Homo sapiens: one gene and its partners. The protein of the gene in region 1 interacts with the protein of each later gene in a pairwise test. Each region holds a gene or a part of one and is shown in the gene's direction. Other genes may lie near its edges. The genes, in order: ELK1, NFE2L2, EMX1, FMR1, PLCG2 and MOB4.

Region 1 (3,500 bases):
TTGTGAGTACCAGGCACTCTTCTAGGTGCTGGAATATGGCAAGGAACGAAACAGGGCGAAATATTTGTGCTTGTGGAGCTGACATTTATTAAAAGTTGGGGAGGCTGGGCACGGTGGCTAACACCAGTAATCCTAGCACTTTGGGAGGCTGAGGTGGGTGGATTGCCTGAGCTCAGGAGTTCAAGACCAGCCTGGGCATCACGGTGAAACCCCATCTCTACTAAAATACAAAAAAATTAGCTGGGTGTGGCGGCGTGCGCCTGTAATCCCAGTTACTTGGGAGGCTGAGGCAGGAGAATTGCTTGAACCCAGGAGGCGGAGGTTGCAGTGAGCCAAGATTGCACCATGCACTCCAGCATGGGTGACAGAGCGAGACTCTGTCTCAAAAAAAAAAAAAAAAAAACCCAAGCTGGGGAGACAGACTATGTGAACAAAATAAATAAGTAAAATTAGCATAATAGACAAATGCTGAGAAGAAATAATGAAATAGGGCAGGTAGGAATCGAGTATTGGGGGTGGTTGAAATCTTAGGCATAGGGAAGGTGACTCTTGAATTAGGGCCTCACGGTAGAGACGGAGAGAGCCTTAATGTCTACGGGAAGAGCATACCAGGCAGAAGGAAGTGCCAGTTCAGAGGCCCTGAGGTGGGATGGTGCCTGCCATGTTCAAGGAACATCAAGGCGGCCAGTGTGGCTGGAGCAGAGTGCGGGGAAGGGTAGAAGGTGAGGTCACACAGGTGATGGGAGCCAGATAGTGCAGGTGATACATAGGATAGGATTGCAGGGGCAGGGGGAGAAGGATGACACACTAGCTAATAGCTAATATCTGTGGAGTATCTGCCACACATCAGAGGCACTTTTCTGTTCAAATACCAACCCCCAAAGGATGTTTACCACACGGTGGTGCCTGGAATGCACTACAAAAAGATACATGTGTCAAAGATATTTCTAAGAATGCCAGTTTATATATGAATAAGGATTTTCCTCCTTTTCAAAAGGATATGTTCACAAAACTGAGGTATGTAATATGCTCTATGGAGGCACAGGTATAAAAGCTGTTTCTAAGAGTGCTAGTTGTATATGTGAATAAGGACTGTGTTGTTGCATTGAAAGAATGTGTTCACAAAACTGTGGTGTATAGCTGGGCACAGAGGCTGAGGTGGGAGGATCACTTGAGCCCAGGAGTTCCAGGCCAGCCTGTGCAACATAGTGAGATCCCCGTCTCCGAAAAAAAACCCAAAAAATAACCACTGTGGTGTGCATAATACACTCTCCTAAAGGCACAGGCATAAAAGATGTTTCTAAGAGTGATTTGATTTTCTGGCACCTGGGTAGTGTTATTTCAGTAAATATTCATTGTTAAACACTATGGTGCTTGGAATATACTATACAAAGGCACATGTATAAAAAAGAAGTTCCTAACAATGCTACTTGTAAAAACAAAAAAAAAAGTCAACCCCTCAAGTCTTTTACAGAAGTATTTTACAGAATTGACACAGTTAATCCTCACAGAAGCCTTGGAGGGTAGGTGTACTTTTGAGAATATTTGACTTTGAGAGTAAAATATCCCCATTTTACAGATGAGGAAACAAGCAAAGAGAGGCTGAGTAACTTGCTCAGGGTAACCTTGAGCCAGAATAGCCAGAACAGGGGCAGAGGAACATAAGGCTGAAGACTCAGAAAGAAGAACAGATTTGCAAGGGCAGGCAGGTTATTTGGCACCTTTGATCACGCAGAGGAAGAATGAATTCTTCCTGGAATGCGATGATTGTGTAATTGAGTCCATGAAGTGAGGGAAGAGCTCTCCCTGCGGGGAGAGCAGCCCGTGCTTACCCTCAGAGGTTGGAACTGTCTCGGGAACGGTAGATAGTTCAGGGTGGCTGCCTCAGAGCCTTTGTACACGCCGTTCGCTCCGCCTGAAGGCCCTCCCCCACAGAGGGCAGCCTGGCTTGCTACCTCCCCTCCTTCAGGCCAGGTGTCACTTCCTTGGGGAAGAACTCCTTGTACACCCTGTGTAAAAACAGCATTCCTGTCACTCTCTAGGATCTTACCCTTCTCTGTTTCTCTTCATGGAGAACTGGTGGTGTAAGGCGATTGCTCACTAGAGCCAAACCACTTAGGTTTTGAATTCCGGCTCTGCCAACTTCCAGCTGTGTGACTTGGGGCAGGTTACTTCTCTGTACCTCCATTGCCTCATGTGGAAAATGGGGGAAATGATAATCCCCACCCTTTAACGGTGGTTTGAGGATTCAATGAGTTAAATGATTCAAAGAGTGTGCAGCCCACGGTAAGGATCGTATGCCTGGCTTGCATTTTTAAATTATTAAAATGTATTCATAGCATACCCGTAGATGTCTGACAGGCCTCTGAAACTGACCATCTCCAAAACTGGTGTGACCCCCCTCAAAACTTACTCTCCTGCAAGGCTCCCACCTCAGCTGACCACAATGCTGTCTTTGTGGGTGATTAGGCCACAAACCTAGACTCACCCTGGACCCTTCTCTCACCTCCCCCGGGCATGCTATCTGTCAGCAAGTCCTATTCTGTGTTCAGGCTTTCTCCAGACCCCAGCTACTTCTCGCCAGCCCCACTGCTACCACCATCATCTACCGCAGTGGCTTCTTCAGCCCCAACAGTCTGTTCTTCTCACAACCGCCAGGGGGATCCTGTTGAAATCTCAGTCACAGCCTGTCATCCCTCTGTTCACAACCCTCTTGTGGCTCCTGTCTCACTCAACATCCTGACAGCACCCGAAAAAGCCTGGCTCAGTCTGGCCCCCGTCACTCTGTTCTCCTCTCCCGCTGCCTCCCTCCTCTCCCCCGAACCCATGTCAGCCTCCTCTCCCCATGTCACCTGCCAGGCACTCTCCAGCCTTGGGCCCTTCACACCGGCTGCCGCTTCCACCTGGCTTGCTGCTCTCAGATACTCACGAGCTCAGTTCCTTCACCTCCTTTTGGTCTCTGCCCAGTTGTCCCCTCCTTGGCGACTACTCTCCCCTGACTCTCCATGTAAAAGTAACAGCTCTCCCCTGCTTGATTTTTTTCCCATAACCCTTACCACCATCTGACGCACTCTTGTACATGTTTGCCTTTTTTCTCATCTGCCTTTCCTGCTAAGATGTGAGCTCCTCTGGAGCAGGGATTGTTGTCTGTTGCGTTCTCGACTGTATCCGCAGCACCTGGCCCACAGTATGCACTCACCAAATGCTTGCTAAGTGAAGGAGATGGAAAGAAGTAAACATATCTAAGCAAGGCAGATTACTAGAACTCTTATGAGGGGTCAAGTGGGAGAAATAACAAAATACAAAGCCCTGTGTGCTGTTGAAGCTGGAAGCCCACCGTCACCTTTCACTCAGCTGATAGGTTCTGTTGCAGCTGAAAGAAGAACTGGTAAAATTGCCTGTCTTTGCCACCAGGAGTCACTCTGAACTCTTTGGACTTCTGAAACAAGCCTGCCTGCAAAACAAATTCAGTGAGGTCTCTGGTGACAGGACTCTCTAAT
Region 2 (3,500 bases), on another chromosome or scaffold:
CCATGCAGCCTCTGGTTCCATGATGCAACCAATGGCAGATTGGTTCAAAAATATTTGGAAAAAGGCCAAGCACAGTGGAGTGGTTCATGCCTGTAATCCTAGCACTTTGGGAAGCTGAGGCAGGAAAATCAATGGAGCCCGGGAATTCAAGACCAGCCTGGGCAAAATGGCAAGACGCCATCTCTACAAAAAGTAATTAGCTGGGCTTGGTGGCATGTGCCTGTAGTCCCAGCTACTTGGGAGGCTGAGGTGGGAGGATCACTTGAGCCCAGGTGAAGGCTGCAGTGAGCCATGATTGCATCACCACACTCCAGCCTGGGTGACAGAGTGAGACCCTATCTCAAAATGAGTAAATAAATAATAAAATTTCAAAAGGAAAAAAGTGGAAAAAAAACCCGAAAAAATAACAATACACACATAAAATACAGTATAACAACTATTTACACAGCATTTACACTTTACTAGGTATTGTAAGTAATCCAGGGATGAGTTAAAGTATATAAAGGGATATGCATAGGTTATTTGCAGCAAATGCCATGCCATTTTATAATAGTGTAGGCTCATGGCTAATAAAGCATGAACCCGACTGAAGCTGCCTGGGTATGTGTCTTTGTTCAGCCACTTTCTGGTAGTATCTTTTTTCTTAACCTCAGTATTCTTATACTGTATAACAGGAATGTTTTCTCTGTATAAGGCTGTTTTGAGGAATAGTTTCTATATGTAAAGTACTTAGAACAGTGCATAGCATATAGGAAGCCCTTAATAGATACTGGCTTAAAGATAATTAGGTATGTCCTAGTGAGGTATACCTAACTACAAGTGCTACTTTAACTATGCCTACTTTGTGTGCTTTACAATATATATTGTTCAAGGCTAGAATAATGAGCCCCATGAGCAGGGTTTCATAGCATTTAAGATTCCAACGCCAACCTTCAATCATGGACACAGGTGGCCTGTGCCATCTAGCTAGCTGCGCTGCCTCCAGGCTGGGTGGCCTGCTCCTCTGTTGGATAAAAATAGCCTGACTCCTCACTGAAACAACCACCATGTTATTTGCGTCCTTGGGAAGCTGAAAGTAATAGAACTCTAAGTCTGGCGTTGCCAGCTGTCAGCAGAATGAAATGCAAAGTGTGACGTGTCTACACTGTACCCACTGGCCTTCAAGTCCCAACTCCCGTTCCCCCATCTTGATTTTTTTCCATTCTCAAATTAATTATTTCCCCTATAGGTGATTTGTGGAATGGAAACAGATTTAGATTTCCTACCTATTTAGATTTTTCCAAAGACTAAAATTACAAATCAGAAAAACTGCTATTGACACATTTTTGGTTAGGAAAATCTGGATGTGGTTCCTATGCCTAGCCTAGTCATATAAATTCTCTCCCCATGTATCTTTTTGTGTGTGTGAAACAGGGTCTTGTCACCCAAGCTGGAGTGCAGTGGTACAATCACAGCTCACCATGGCCTTGACTTCCTGGGCTCAAGCAATCCTCTCACTTCAGTCTCCCTAATAGTTGGGACTACAGGCTCGTATCACCACGTGCAACTAATTTGTTTTGATTTTGGGTAGAAACAGGTGTCACTATGGTGCCCAGGCTAGTAACTCCTGTGCTCCAGCAATCCTCCTGCCTTGGCCTCCCAAACTCCTGGGATTACAGGCCTGAGTCACCAAGCTCAGCCTCTCCTCATCAAAACCATTCCCTCTTTGTAAGATTCTTCCTATGTCTTAAAACTTAATACCTTTAATCCTTCCCTGGAGCCATAGTTTTATTTATTTATTTATTTATTTATGAGACAGGGTCTCACTTTGTTGCCCGGGCTGGAGTGCAGTGACACGATCATAGCTCACTGCTGCCATGACCTCCTGGACTGAAGTGATCCTCCTACCTCAGCCTCCTGAGTAGCTGGGACCACAGGTGTGCGCCACCACACCAGTTGTTGTTGTTGTTGTTTGTTTTTGTTTTGGTAGAAACAGGGTCTCTCCATGTTGCCCAGGCTGGTCGCGAACTCCTGGGCTCAAGCAATCCACCTGCCTCAGCCTCCCAAAGTGCTGGGCTTGTAGGCGTGAGCCACCGCACCTGTCCCTGTCTGCTTTTATTTTATTTTTTTTTGAGATGGAGTCTTGCTCTGTTGCCCAGGCTGGAGTGCAGTGGTGCGATCTCAGCTGACTGCAACCTCTGCCTCCCAGGTTCAAGCCGATTCTCCTGCCTCAGCCTCCTGAGTAGCTGGGATTACAGGCACGTACCACCACACCCGGCTGATTTTTGTATTTTTAGTAGAGACGTGGTTTCACCATGTTGGCCAGGCTGATCTCGAACTCCAGACCTCAGGTGATCCACCCACCTTGGCCTCCCAAAGTGCTGGGATTACAGGCATATAGGTAAGCCACAGAGATAAGAGTAGCAAGCAGTGATGGGGAGAAGATAATCTAGTGTAGGAAAGATGGAAAGAATGGTGATATTTCACAACTGCTAGATTGACACTTTAACTTGAGAGTTATCCCTCTATAAACTGGATATTTGCTGAGCAAAGTTTAAAGAAAACTCCATGTATTCAGTAATGTTTTCCAGACCCCACTTCTCTTATATAAGCCAGTGGCTTAGAGTGCTTGCTCTAATTTCTATATTCCATTAAACAAGGGTGGGATTTCTTCTCATTCAAACCATTTGTGACTTTGCCCTTTAGTGACCTCTACCATCACCCTATCATTAATGATCCAAGTGATTAGAATGGATGGCTATGTGTTTGTAGGTTGTTTGTTGTCTTTAATGAATAGATTCATTGAATGGAATTAACTGTGCTCTTCTAGAACATTGGATCTGTGTTCTCATTTAGATTGTATTTGTAATCTCCCCACTTCCCACCATCAACAGTGGCATAATGTGAATTAATTTATGTGGTATCTGTCATTTAAAAAACATGAGCTCTCTCCTTCCTTTTTTTGTCTTAAACATAGGACATGGATTTGATTGACATACTTTGGAGGCAAGATATAGATCTTGGAGTAAGTCGAGAAGTATTTGACTTCAGTCAGCGACGGAAAGAGTATGAGCTGGAAAAACAGAAAAAACTTGAAAAGGAAAGACAAGAACAACTCCAAAAGGAGCAAGAGAAAGCCTTTTTCGCTCAGTTACAACTAGATGAAGAGACAGGTGAATTTCTCCCAATTCAGCCAGCCCAGCACATCCAGTCAGAAACCAGTGGATCTGCCAACTACTCCCAGGTACAGAGTACTCAGTTCTTGGGAAAGTTATGGCAGGTTTAAGGAAACACTGAGCAAGGAATTAAAATATCTGGATTTGAGTTCCAGCTTTGCCTTTCTTTTACTTAACCTTGTCAAATCTACTTTCCAACCTCAGCCTCCTGATGAGTTCAGTACCTAACCTGAGTTCAGTACCCAACCTATTGATCTTAACAGTGTTATTGTGAGGATTGGGAAGACTTAAGTTACACCAAAGAGTTTTGTAAAGTATAGAAACATCCTGTAAGGATCAAGTAGC
Region 3 (3,500 bases), on another chromosome or scaffold:
CGGCCTGCCCCATCTCTTGGCTTAACAGAGGGATCTGGAGAGCTGTTATTCCCCGCGTTCCCCCGCGGAGTGGCTCTCGAGTGCGGGGAGGTGTTGCGGAGGGGAGTGGACTTAGGGAAGGGGCGGCAAAAGGGCAAAGGGAGAAATGGCGTGTGTGTGCGTGTCAAGGAATGGAGAGGGCAGGGCGCTTGGGAGCAGGGCGCGAGGCCAGGCTCTGTTGGGCCCCGGCTCACGGCGCCCCTTCTCTCTGTCTGTACCTGCGTGTGTTGCCGTCGGCGGCGGGGCCGCAGCCAGCGACGTGCCCCAGGACGGGCTGCTTCTGCACGGCCCCTTCGCACGCAAGCCCAAGCGGATCCGCACGGCCTTCTCGCCCTCGCAGCTGCTGCGGCTGGAGCGCGCCTTCGAGAAGAACCACTACGTGGTGGGCGCCGAGCGGAAGCAGCTGGCCGGCAGTCTCAGCCTCTCCGAGACGCAGGTAATCACCCCCGGTCGCGGCCTGCCCTGCGCCCGGAGCCCGGGTGGAGGTGAGGGTGCGCGGGTGCAGGAGAGGCCCTGAGCCCGCCCCAGCCCAGCCCTGCTGGGTTCCAAAAGGCCCCCATTCCCCGCGGCGCTGCGGTCAAGCCCGTCTTTAGAGCCTCTTCCTCGAGACTGCGTGCAGCCTGCTGAGCCCGCAGGACTTTTGTCAAGCGCTAAAGACCTAGCAGGAGGCAGAGTAAATGCAAACTGTATCCCGAGCCCGGCTCCCAAAGCTCCTCACGGGGGGACCAGGTTCCCTGGAGGAAGCGGGTCGCCTCGGGAGCGGGCAGCGCAGGCAGCACCGAGGCCACTGGAGCTGGCTCCAGCCCTGGCATTCCTGCAGCCCTTTTCCCGCCACTGTGTCGGGGCGCTCATAGTCCTGCGGGGAGCCGGTCCGCACTGGCTTTGCTGCTGTTCCTGGGCAAAACTGGCGGGGCCTTGGCTGCCCACCAGCCAGGAGCGTCTGGGGAGAAAGCCCAGGTGTCCTCAGACTACCAACAGAGGGGCTTAACCAGGGAGGGGCCAGCCCCTGCTTGGGGCCCGAGGGTTGCTCTGATCCGGCCCAGGCCGGCTGATAGGGCTGTGGAAGCCACGGTGTGCGCGCGCAGAGCATCTGAGTGGCCTGGGCCTGGTGGGAAATAGACCCCGGGTACTCAGGTGCTTCTCTGAATCACTGGAAAGGCTGTCGAATGGGAGAAGGAATAAACTCCAACGGCGCCTGGGCTTGAACTGAGTGAAATTAACAATTACCGTGTAGTGTTTTTGTAACTGATCGTTAATTTAAGGGAAAAAATTAAAGAATTAGATGAAAGTTATAGGGAGGTGGATTTGGGTTCATTGTAAGTAGACTTTGCCATAAATAAATGCTGCCTGGGATCACTGCATAAGCTCTTGGTCCACCCAGGTCCGACGTGTTGGAGTGGGGCTCAGCGACCCTCAGCCTAGCTGCTGCCCTGGAGGTGGATTTCAGTCTCTGCGTGCCGGCCGGCTCCCAGAGTTGCGAGAGGCCGGCTCCGCGGTCTCCCAGCTACCTCCCGGCTGACTTTTCACCTTCCGCTCCCCTTTCCTCCTAGTCTCGACCCTACTACACCACCGTCCCCTCCCAAGTCCCGGGCAGTGAGAAGATGCCCGGCATGGGGGGCAGCCGGAGCCTCCCTTTAGCAGCCAGAGTAGGAAGGGGGCTTAGTGAGGGAGCCCAGACCCAAACTTCATCCGCAGCTTTCTTCGGCGGACCTTACCCTCTCCTCCTTCAGTGGCATTTTGGCATCTATTGTCGTCATATCTGTCTGCTGCCCCACTTAATCTACAAATCGCTCACGGGTCGGAGGCAGGACCCGTGCGTTTTCAGATGTACTAGCTGGGCTGTTCTAACTGCAGGGAAAAAGCTTACAAAACAAGAGTTAATTTTAAAAACGTTTCAAAGAAAGATGTGTTTTTAAAAATAAGTTAATAAAATAACACTCCCTTTTCCCTCCTGGCAGTGTTTTAAAATTATTGTTTGAAACAAGGTGTCAGTTTAAGAATGGTGTTTATAATTAACTTCATTTAAACAGTAATATTTATTAAATTTTAATTGCAGAACTGTAAGAAAACAAAAATGGTTTTTAATCCTACCACCCACAGATTAACACTTGTTGAAATAATGTCATTGTTTTTAAACTTTCAATTTTTTAGCTCAGTGAGAGCATTTTTAATTAACTCTCTTTCAAACTGAACCTAGCTGCCTGTCAATATTTGCTCCTAACAATGCCAGTTAGTAAACGGACTGATTGTTTCTTTCATTTTTATTATGAGACATTTCAAACATATATTTAAAACAAAACCAGATAGAATAACATAAACGTATCCTGCTTCATTAACTATCAAAACTCAGGGCTAATCTTCTTCCCGTCTGTAAATGAGCTGCTTTTTGCATATGGTACAACAAAAAGAATGAGGGGAGGTTTGAGCCTGGGGAACCTGCCGTGGCAGCCTGTCCTTCCAGGTGAAGACCCTGAGATGGAGAGATGGTTTGGACAGAGCTTCCCAGGTGGGCAAACACGATTTTAAATACCTGCCTCCCTGCTAACTTACTGTGTAACCCTGGGCAAGTCACTTAACCTCTCTGAGCTCTGGTTTCCTCATTGAGAAAATAGTTGTTTAATGATTAAAGGTACCTCATATGAGCTCAAATAATATTAATCCCCATCCCTAGTCCCTTCCCTTTAAGGTAGTATGTCAGATTAGTAGCATAAGAAGATCCAAACCTGTGTGTCCTCTTAGTCCAGCGTTCTTCCTCCCTTATGCAGTTTCCGTCATCAACATTGCCTTTCTGTTGCCCTCATAACTTATCATACGGAGCCAGGCTATATAATTAGCTACTTCTCTATCCGCCTCTTGGTACTTACCAGGCAAGCTTACCTGTCATTTCCAGCTATCAGCTATTTGTCAAGCATCAGTCACCCCCAACAGCCCCCCTGCCATGCATTTCTACTGTTAATATCTGTATCTGTCTCCAGAGCTCTCTAATCTGTCCCACCCCGTAGCTGTTTTACATCTAGCCATATACTTCTGTCTGCTCTCATTAAACTGCCTCCCCAAAACTGGCTAATTTATATTTCCGATTTTCTATTAGTTATATGTTCTTCCTAACAATAAGAACTATTTACCCATTTGTTCATTATCTTTGTCATCTATTTTACCTTCTGTGTTTCCACCATTCATCTCAAACTTCATCTCCATAGAGCTATTTCGCAACTGACAAACAGTATATTCATATGTCTGGTAATGGTTATCTATTATTGGCTCTGGCTTTGTCTTCTCTCTGGGTCTGGGCCTCAGTTTCTGTATCTGTGAGATTGAATGACACAAATTCCAGGGTTTTTTCTAGTGCTGAGTTTCTGTGACTCCTCTACATTCTACTTCTCTGTGTTTCTGTATACTACCTCCTCCACATTCTCAGAGCTCACCACACAACCCCTGCCTATCATGATATGCATCAAACT
Region 4 (3,500 bases), about 100 Mb from region 1:
GGTGGACTTTGGCAAAAATGGTTTGGTTTGCAAGAGCAATGGAGAAAAAACTTATTTAACTTTTCCTACTTATAGAATCAAGGCAGCCTTGCGCTTGTTTAAACTTACTTGGCTATACACGTGTCTGATGTACATAATGTACATTTGTTTTCTAAACTAACTTTGTTCATTCTAAGATTTAAAAACTGATCAAACAAATGTGATAATTCTGTCATAAGTCACAAACTATAAACGATTTCTCCGTTTTTTTCTCTTTTACCTAAAATGTTTTCAGATAAATGTGTAATAAGTAGAGCCAAAGAAGCTTTAAAAAGTCATCTCATCTTACAATCCTTGATCTGGAATAATGCTTAAAGACTATAGAAGAGACGCATTTTTATTTTTTACAGATTTTATTAAGTGAATACAGTACGTTTGATTTGGACATGTTGTTGAACATTAAATTGCAGTTCAGAATACATAGAAATCCTCCCTTTTCTAGAGATTGTGTATGTGTGTAAATTTTTGTGCCTTCTGGTTCATGTACGTTTCCTTCTCTCCCTCAAATCGTTTAGCAGTTTCTTACCCCATTCTCCGTGATGTGCTTATTTCATATTGCATGCCTGTATCAAAACATCTCATATGCCCCATAAATATATATACCTACTATGTACCCACAAAACTAAAAATTAAAAAAAAAGGAAAAAAAAAGGCCTGCAACAAGAGAAGAAGAAAGAAATCAGATACCCTGTAGGTAGCTATCTCCAAAAGTTTTCAATAGTTGACTTAAGAAAACTACTGACTTGTATGTAACTGAAATCAGGAAACCTGTAGTGTAGAGTGGTTCCCCTGAATATGTCTCTTTTGGTAATCTAAGCTGTATTTCAGAAATGTACAGAAAAGGAGCTAAGCTTCTAAATGGATATAGCATATTTTGCATAAATCAAATTTAATATGAATCCATGATTCTTGTATGTGTAAATCTGCCTGCATTTATTTATGTCAGTAGTTGGTAATTATTCATCTTAATTTTTTTTTTTAAATTTCTAGGTGTGCCAAAGAGGCGGCACATAAGGATTTTAAAAAGGCAGTTGGTGCCTTTTCTGTAACTTATGATCCAGAAAATTATCAGCTTGTCATTTTGGTGAGCATTTTTGAGTTGTTTATTTTTAGTTTAATTCATCTGGGGCAATTGCCTTGATAATAATGTTGTTAATTTAAATCATTTAGTCCATCAATGAAGTCACCTCAAAGCGAGCACATATGCTGATTGACATGCACTTTCGGAGTCTGCGCACTAAGTTGTCTCTGATAATGAGAAATGAAGAAGCTAGTAAGCAGCTGGAGGTATGTCACTTTCCCTAGCACTGCTTGTAAGGGTACCTAGGAACGATTAACTGTATCATTCCACAACTTGAATATGGGGAGCTTGTCATTTATTTACTGCTTCTTAACAATTCCTTAGGTTCTATAGTTGGAAAATTGTACAAAGCATAATCATACTAAAGTTTCCATGCCTGAGGTTTCAAAATTAAACAGCAGCTTATGTATATTAAGGGACTTCTGGTACTTTCACTTTTACTAGAAGTTTATCAAAGTTGCTAATAAAATGCGGCAATGCTTCTTCCATATAACATGTTGTCATTAAAAATACTAGAGAATATTTAAATATCTAATCATATTCCTCTCATTATGTATGTTTATCTTTGTTTAAAAGGGTATAGAACTTCTTCATTCTAATTGGTTGTCATTCTTTAAAACTCCTGTCTTCAGATTCCCGCCAGAGGCTATTTCCCTAACTTACTATTTTGTCTCTTAAGGTGCATTTTATCTACTTTTATTAATCCTCCAATAATTTTCATCACCATATATTTGTTTTCATTGATAACTATCAAGTACGTCCATCCATTACTATAGAAACTAAGTGGATCTTAGATGAATGTGCCAGCTCTACTATATTCCTGTCAAATTCCAGAGTTCGTCATCATTATTCATTAGAAGGAAAACACCACACATTTGAAATAGTAAAGAAAAAAAGGAGTTCCAAACTGCATTTTAGGAGAAAAGGTAGTCAAGACTGTGTTCTTATAAAAACCCTGTGAAATTTGCCACCTGTCAACTTGATGTATGATGCTGAACTCTTAGCAGAAGGGGAAAAGTTTAATCTCCTTTTGCCACTTTGTTTTTTCTTAAGGCCATGGAGGTCTGTTTAATTGGTCTTTGCTCTCATTCTTTCTTGATGTCCCTGTGTTCATGATTTTGTGGTTCCTTCAGTGATTCTCTCATAACTTTTAGCCCAGAGCTGCCTCCTTACTTTGATTGTGAGTATTATGAAAATATACTCATATGCCTCTTAAACATCGAATTATTCTTAAATGATCTATCATACTTTTGGCTAACCATTTATCAGTGAATTATCAATGAAAAAGAACGAACCAGATTAATGAACCAGGACTCAAAAAACATGACTTCTTGAAAAGTCCTAGAATTATTTTATAGATTTTATTACTCTAGTCTAAAAAAAATGGGTATTGCACTTTTAAATTATTTATGCTAGTTGTATTCATTCATTCAAATTATCAGGTCTGTTGAACAATGAGAAACTAGTATGCATGCCTATCTTTCTTCACTACTAATATTAAAGAGATTTACATGTTCCTATAAGAAATTCCCATTTTTCAACATGAGCCACTAATACGTTTGGTTTTCATTAATGGCATGCTAGAACTGAACACTAAATTTTGATAATGGTATTTAAAGACAGTGGTTATCCACAAGTTTGGGATGTCAGTGTAACTTAGTTTCGTCATCACTGGATATTTACAAGTGCTCATCATAATTGTGGATCCAGATCACAAGGTCTTACGGACTCTGGTCTCATGTTAGCTTTCAGATGCTTACTAAGTTTTTAATTTTTGACATTTTTTGATTATTCAGTTTAACTACTGTACCAACAATTTTTGATTCCTTAGGTTTTGAGGGAGGTGTCATTTTAATGTCATTTCAACAGAGGAATGTTTAGACCACAGTACCTAATGATGTTATAAAAAATGGCACTGTTTCCAGAAAATATATACTGATACCTTTTAATAAAAATGAAGCGAATAAAATTTTCTATAAAGATGATATTTAAACATTTTTTTACCTAAATAAGTAACATTGAGTTTGTCAGACCGAGTGAGCTGGTTTTTACTGGGGAACATTTGACCTGCTTCTTAGTTATTATATTGCTGATGTCATTGGTTAACTAAGGCAGCCTTGTGATAAGTTTTCAGCAGTTACCTTGGAAAATGTCAACAAGTTCTTTCCTATTAACAAAAACATATAAAATGTCATAGACCTTTAGTAACCTAAAAAGTACTTAGGCTGTGAGAGGTATTTTCTAAAACCTGTTAGTTTTAACCTAAAACTATTAATAATTTATGGACCCCTCATATACAGGGTCAAGATAATTTACATGGCTGGCCTAAATACAGTTGTCGTAATAGTTGATAAAGTGTATTCATCAGACGTCCATTTCT
Region 5 (2,947 bases), on another chromosome or scaffold:
TCTGTCAAACAAACAAACAAACAAACAAACAAAAAATCCTTTGGCACCCTTGACTCTAGTTCTCTTTGTTCTAGAAATTAACCTACAGTAATACCTTAGGCGCTTGCCACTTCCCCTAAGTAGAACTGTTTCCTCTAGAAGGACACTTCAATTTAATAGCGAAAATAAATGATGACCACTGACTTTTAAGGAGTACTTATTGTGTTTCCAAGAATGGGCTAGTCCAGCGGCTCTAGACTGGGTCAAGATCCCCCAACAGGGATGCTTGTGGTTGTGCTACAGGCATGTAATGGGGTGCGGGGCGGCCGGGGTTGCCAAGTGTTTCATAATATGTCTAAATCTTCTAAGAAAGAATCATCCAGACAAAAATCCTAATAGTAGCCACCAACGAGAAACTGTGCTGCCTCCCTTACTCACATTATTCTCATTGAATCTTCATGTCAGCCTGCAGAGTAGCTCTTACTCTGTTTTACCATTGAGGAGATTTAACCTCTCTGAGTCTCAACGTCTTACCAGGAACTTGGAGTCTGCCTCTCTGACACTCAGCCCTATACCATCCAGCTATGAATGACTGGCAAATGTACAGAAAGAGAAATGTTACAGAGTTCAGCACGCAGCCCATTTCTCATGGCCCACTGCTGATGGTGAAATCTGTTTTATTTCAGGTTAAGAGAGAAGAGAGTCAGCAACAGCAAGTTTTACTCATAGAAGCTGGGGTATGTGTGTAAGGGTATTGTGTGTGTGCGCATGTGTGTTTGCATGTAGGAGAACGTGCCCTATTCACACTCTGGGAAGACGCTAATCTGTGACATCTTTTCTTCAAGCCTGCCATCAAGGACATTTCTTAAGACCCAACTGGCATGAGTTGGGGTAATTTCCTATTATTTTCATCTTGGACAACTTTCTTAACTTATATTCTTTATAGAGGATTCCCCAAAATGTGCTCCTCATTTTTGGCCTCTCATGTTCCAAACCTCATTGAATAAAAGCAATGAAAACCTTGATCAATTAAGCCTTCTGTTGCACGACCTGTGCAGTGAACAGGATTTCTTTTCTGGCCAAGAAGATTCTACCTCTAATGATCCAGGTAACTGATGTCCATGGAGGATGAGCTGGAAATGTAAGAAACTATTCATGAGATTCTGAAAAGGATTTTAACTCAAAGGCAAATGATTCCATAAGGGCCCAAAGAGAAGCCCTACCCACAGGCAGCCTGCTCAGTTCAATGTACTTTAACTACCACCGGCTGCCTGCTGCAGTCCACAAGAAAATGGCTGAGTGATGGGATCTGTTCATTAAGACAATTTCTAATTAATGGTGACAGCTTGTTTTGTGACTAGAGTTACTGGGATGGAGGGTAGGAATCTTGGGGCCTCTTTGTTTTAAAAAGCCCATCAGAGAGACCAGAGCCGTGCTGCAGGGGCAGGTTCTCACTTGCCCCTGGCTCTGCCAGCTGCTGGGAGGCTCTGGCCCCACTAGTCCCTCATGGCCCTACTGAACTGGCTGGGAGGCTGCTGGAATGGCCCTTGGTCCACAGCTCTCCACAGGCAAGAGGTCAACTGCTGCTTGAAAGAGGTAGACAAAAGTTAGGTTGATGGCGAAATGTCTCTGGGTTACCCAGTCTTCTGGAGCAGCAAGCTGAGCTTTAATGGGCTAAGCATTAGGGTGTTACAGAAAATTTCAAATGCAGCCATCTCCCTTGGGGCAGATCTACCTAGTTCATGACAGTATGTGCGGCTGGCCAGGGCTTTACACCTCTGCATCTTAAGTTGTTAATACATACCAATAATGTAATATGGCTTTTTAAAGGAGAGGAGAGTGCTGGGTTGGGAAGGGAGGTGGTTGGTAGAGTCACAACTTCTCAATGAGTGAATTTACAGCTGATGGGAAAAGGAGTGTAACTGTGAAAAACGATGGCTGTGGTGGGGAAGAACAAACCAGCAGTAAGCCTGATGTTTGATGTGGATGGAACTGGCCCCTAGAAACCCATCTGACCCTCCTCTTGTTACCCGAAATGCTGGGCTTAGTATGCATGTACTGCTGAAAAGCAGGGCAGAACAAATCAGGCTCTGACCAGAAGATCCTTCTGGTCCCTTCACTCTACAAAAACTTACTGATCACCTCCACATGCCAAATACAGTGCCAAGATTTGGGGGTGTGGATGTTTAAACAAAAAGCTGTGGGTCTCATCAATCATCTCCATCCACAAGCTCCTAAAAGAAAGCCATTTACCTCGCTTGAAGCCAGGAACACAGGGAACAGCAGTCTGGCCAAGGAAGGGCTGTTATCTGGTGCTATCACTCCAGTTACTCCTCCAACTGGGAGCTGCTATTTTATTTGGCAGTCAGCAACTGAAGAAAGAACATTCCTCTTAGTGGCAGATGTTCAAAGCAACTTTCAAGAAAGGCTAGGTGAGAAAGGCACTGGGATGAGTGCTGCAGGCACTCTGTAGCCAGGGCCCCATTAGCCTTTGGCCAGGTAGCCACCAGAACCTATTTATTGCACCTGGCATCTCCCCCAACCCCTCTCAGCTCTGTTAGGACTTCCACACAGCAGAGCTCAGGTGTTGCTGTCATTACCTCCTTTCAGCTCCTCACTTCATTCTACTTTAAAGCCACAGTGCTAAGGCCTGCATCCCCTTTCTGCCCAAATGGGTTTTTTGCTACCATATCAAAGAACCTGACATATGGCGGCATAGGAAGCAGAAGCTAAGCCTCTCTCCAGCTGCTGCTGTGTAAAATCCATGCGTGGCCAAAGAGAAGTCAGGGGATTATGACATAAATGGTGCTGGGAAGAACCCTCTGCCTAAAACTGTCTCCTTCTCCTGGTGCTACAACCGGAATCCACCATGAGAGAGTACTTTCTTCGGTTCTTTCCTCCTGTCCTTGACAGAGTAACACGTTAATCTGGTTCTTGGTGGTGTTAGGGACTGATTCTCTCAGGAAAG
Region 6 (3,500 bases), on another chromosome or scaffold:
TTGTATTTTTAGTAGAGATGGGGTTTCAGCGTGTTAGCCAGGTTGGTCTCGAACTCCTGACCTCAAGTGATCTTCCCGCCTCAGCCTCCCAAAGTGCTGGGATTACAGGCGCAAGCCACCACGCTGGGCTTCATAGTTGGTTTTCAATAAATGTTTGTTGGTTGAATTAGATGAGAATCTTTATTAAGCTGAATTTTTGGTGTCTCTCATAGGCATCTAAAATATGTCACAGTTATGAGAAGGCGAAACATTTCATTCTCAACATCTTTTCTATATATAGTCATCATTGGTGTCCTCTGGGGATTGGCTCCAGGATAACTCCGTACCCCCACCCCATACCAAAATCTGAGGATGCTTAAGTTTCTTAAGTAAAATGGCATAGTGTTTGCATATAACCTATGCACATTCTGTTATATAGTTTAAATCAACTCTAGATTACTTAATAATACCTAATGCAATGCGTGTTCTGTAAATAGTTGTTATACTGTATTTAGGGAATAATGACCAAAAAGAAAGCCGGTACATGTTTAGTACATACGCAACTATCTTAGACCTAACTAGGTACATAGTACATGTCAGCAACAATATAACATTTTCTGTATTTTTTTTCTCCCCTGAAATGAATATTTTCAATTCCTGGTTGATTGAATCTGCAGATTAAACCTGCAGATATGGAGGGCCAACTGTACATGTGTTTTCTAATATTTTAAAAACAACATTCTGTAAACTTCCTTAGTTTTTTTAAAAAGGAAAGAATAGACAGAGTATTGGTAGAAACTTTAGATCATATAGGAAAAATTTTAGAATTGCTCTTTAATAGATAATGTCTAAGAAAAGGAATCCTGGAACCATTTCTAGAAGATTGTTTTATTTCTTGATATTTTCCTTTAATAAAATTAGTTCATTTTCATCCAGATAGGCCAGCTATTTCAAAAAAGATGAAATGTTTAAGACACTTAAAAAGGTGTACTCATTACCTACTGTCCAAACGGGGACATTGCTACTATAGTTGAATCCTTATGGAAGACATTCTCTGTCTTCTACCCTATCATTCCTTTTCTTTTCTGTATACTTTTACTATATATGCATTATATCCATAAGTATGCCTTGCACTTAAACTTTTTTTTTTTTTTTTGAGACAGAATCTCGCTCTGTCTCCCAGGCTGGAGTGCAGTGCTGCACTCTCGGCTCACTGCAAACTCCGCTTCCTGGGTTTGCGCCCACCACCACGCCTGGCTAATTTTTTGTATTTTTTCATAGAGATGGGGTTTCACCGTGTTAGCCAGGATGGTCTCGATCTGCTGACCTCATGATCCGCCTGCCTCGGCCTCCCAAAGTGCTGAGCGTGAGCCACCGCGCCCGGCCTAAACTTTATTCATTTTATATACACTGTGTTTACTTCTAATTTGCTTTTTTTGCTCAAGGTTTTGAAGACTTAATCTTTGTTGATTGTTTTTACAGGTTTATATACAGGTTTATAGATTATTGGTTTACTCTTACCTCCTCCCCACCAAGTTTTACCTCAGAGACATTTGAGCTTCAAAGATGTGTCAGGCATTGTGCTACCCACTGAGGTTACATAGGTAAACTTTTCTGAAAAATCAGTCAAATGGAAAGGTTCTTAATCACTTAGGGGAATATCTGTTAACTGTATTATCTACAGAGAATTCCAGAACCAGGGCAAGATGCTCTATAAAAATATCCCCCTTAAGCTGGGCATGGTGGCTCATGCTTGTAATGCCAGCACTTTGGGAGGCTGAGGCTGGAGGATTGTTTGTGACCAGGAGTTTGAGACCAACCTGGCCAACAAAGTGAGACCTCGTCTCTTAAAAAAAAAAAAAAAAAAAAAAAAGAAGAAGAAATAAAAATATTCCCTTTAACAGAAAGCTGGTTTATTTGATGTTTCCTTCTCTTTTTAAAATTTTTGTGGGTATATAGTAGGTGTATATATTTGTAGGTTACATGAGATATTTTGATACAAGCATGCAGTGTATAATAATCACATCAGGGGGGTAAATGGGGTATCCATCACCATAAACATTTGTATCGGGGAACCTGCCCCGATAGTCACGTAGGTTCTTTTCTATTTTCCCTAAGCATCAGCCAGTTTGAGAAATGAAGGGACAGAGTACAAAAGAGAGAAATTTTAAAGTTGGGCGTCCGGGGGAGACATCACATGTCGGTGGGTACCGTGATGCCCCACAAGCTGCAAAACCGGCAAGTTTTTATTAGGGACTTTCAAAAGGGGAGGGAGTGTACAAATAGGGTGTGGGTCACAAAGATCACGTACTTCACAAGGTAATAGAATATCACAAGGGAAATGGAGGCAGGGCGAGATCACAGGACCACAGGACCAGAGCAAAATTAAAATTGCTAATGAAGTTTCGGGCACCATTGTCATTGATAACATCTTATCAGGAGACAGGGTTTTGAGAGCAACCGGTCTGACCAAAATTTATTAGGTGGGAATTTCCTCTTCCTAATAAGCCTGGGAGCACTATGGGAGACTGGGGTTTATTTCACCCCTACAGTTTCGACCATAGAAGACGGCCATACCCAAGGGGGCCGTCTATAGACCCACCCCCAGGCGTGTATTCTCTTTCCCAGGGATGTTCCTTGCTGAGAAAAAGAATTCAGCGATATTTCTCCCATTTGCTTTTGAAAGAAGAGAAATATGGCTCTGTTCCGCCCGGCTCACCAGTGGTCAGAGTTTAAGGTTATCTCTCTTATTCCCTGAACAATTGCTGTTATCCTGTTCTTTTTCCAAGGTGCCCAGATTTCATATTGTTCAAACACACATGCTCTACAGTTTGTGCAGTTAACACAATTATCACAGGGTCCTGAGGTGACATACCTCCTCCTCAGCTGACAGGATTAAGAGATTAAAGACAGGCCTAGGAAATCACAAGGTATTGATTGGGGAAGTGATAAGTGTCCATGAAATCTTCACAATTTGTGTTTAGAGACTGCAGTAAAGACAGGCATAGGAAATTATAAAAGTATTAATTTGGAGAACTAATAAATGTCCATGAAATCTTCACAATCCACATTCTTCTGCCGTGGTTTCAGCCGGTCCCTCAGTTTGGGGTCCCTGACTTCCTGCAACACATTTGTCCTTTATGTTGCAAAAAATTAGATTCTTTTAGTTTTTTTTAAATGTACAATTAAATTGGTTTTTACTATAGTCACCCTATTGTGCTAGCAAATACTAGGTCTTATTCATTCTTTCTATTTTTTTTGTACCCATGGGTGATTACCTTTTTTTTTTTTTTTTTTTTTTTTTGAGATGGAGTCTTGCTCTGTCACCCAGGCTGGAGTGCAGTGGCGTGATCTTGAGTCACCACAGCTTCCGCCTCCTGGGTTCAAGCAATTCTCCTGCCTCAGCCTCCTGAGTAGCTGGGATTACAGGCGCACGCCACCATGCCCGGCTATTTTTTGTATTTTTAGTAGAGACGGGGTTTCATCATGTTGGCCAGGCTGGTCTCGAACTCCTGACCTCA

What was found.
Region 2: the proteins of ELK1 (region 1) and NFE2L2 interact in binary tests that used the Homo sapiens proteins (3 or more experiments, as listed by UniProt).
Region 3: the proteins of ELK1 (region 1) and EMX1 interact in a two-hybrid assay, tested with the Homo sapiens proteins (one large-scale study listed by BioGRID and IntAct).
Region 4: the proteins of ELK1 (region 1) and FMR1 interact in binary tests that used the Homo sapiens proteins (3 or more experiments, as listed by UniProt).
Region 5: the proteins of ELK1 (region 1) and PLCG2 interact in a two-hybrid assay, tested with the Homo sapiens proteins (one large-scale study listed by BioGRID and IntAct).
Region 6: the proteins of ELK1 (region 1) and MOB4 interact in a two-hybrid assay, tested with the Homo sapiens proteins (one large-scale study listed by IntAct).

What each region holds. Positions count from the first base shown.
Region 1 is NC_000023.11:47,644,064-47,647,563, reverse strand, and holds part of ELK1 (ETS domain-containing protein Elk-1), read left to right. Parts: intron 1-3,500. UniProt on the Homo sapiens protein: Transcription factor that binds to purine-rich DNA sequences. Forms a ternary complex with SRF and the ETS and SRF motifs of the serum response element (SRE) on the promoter region of immediate early genes such as FOS and IER2.
Region 2 is NC_000002.12:177,233,728-177,237,227, reverse strand, and holds part of NFE2L2 (nuclear factor erythroid 2-related factor 2), read left to right. Parts: intron 1-2,956; coding exon 2,957-3,223; intron 3,224-3,500.
Region 3 is NC_000002.12:72,924,019-72,927,518, forward strand, and holds part of EMX1 (homeobox protein EMX1), read left to right. Parts: intron 1-290; coding exon 291-475; intron 476-3,500. UniProt on the Homo sapiens protein: Transcription factor, which in cooperation with EMX2, acts to generate the boundary between the roof and archipallium in the developing brain. May function in combinations with OTX1/2 to specify cell fates in the developing central nervous system.
Region 4 is NC_000023.11:147,928,919-147,932,418, forward strand, and holds part of FMR1 (fragile X messenger ribonucleoprotein 1), read left to right. Parts: intron 1-1,029; coding exon 1,030-1,123; intron 1,124-1,209; coding exon 1,210-1,326; intron 1,327-3,500.
Region 5 is NC_000016.10:81,957,291-81,960,237, forward strand, and holds part of PLCG2 (1-phosphatidylinositol 4,5-bisphosphate phosphodiesterase gamma-2), read left to right. Parts: intron 1-665; coding exon 666-708; 3' UTR 709-2,947. UniProt on the Homo sapiens protein: The production of the second messenger molecules diacylglycerol (DAG) and inositol 1,4,5-trisphosphate (IP3) is mediated by activated phosphatidylinositol-specific phospholipase C enzymes. It is a crucial enzyme in transmembrane signaling.
Region 6 is NC_000002.12:197,519,066-197,522,565, forward strand, and holds part of MOB4 (MOB-like protein phocein), read left to right. Parts: intron 1-3,500.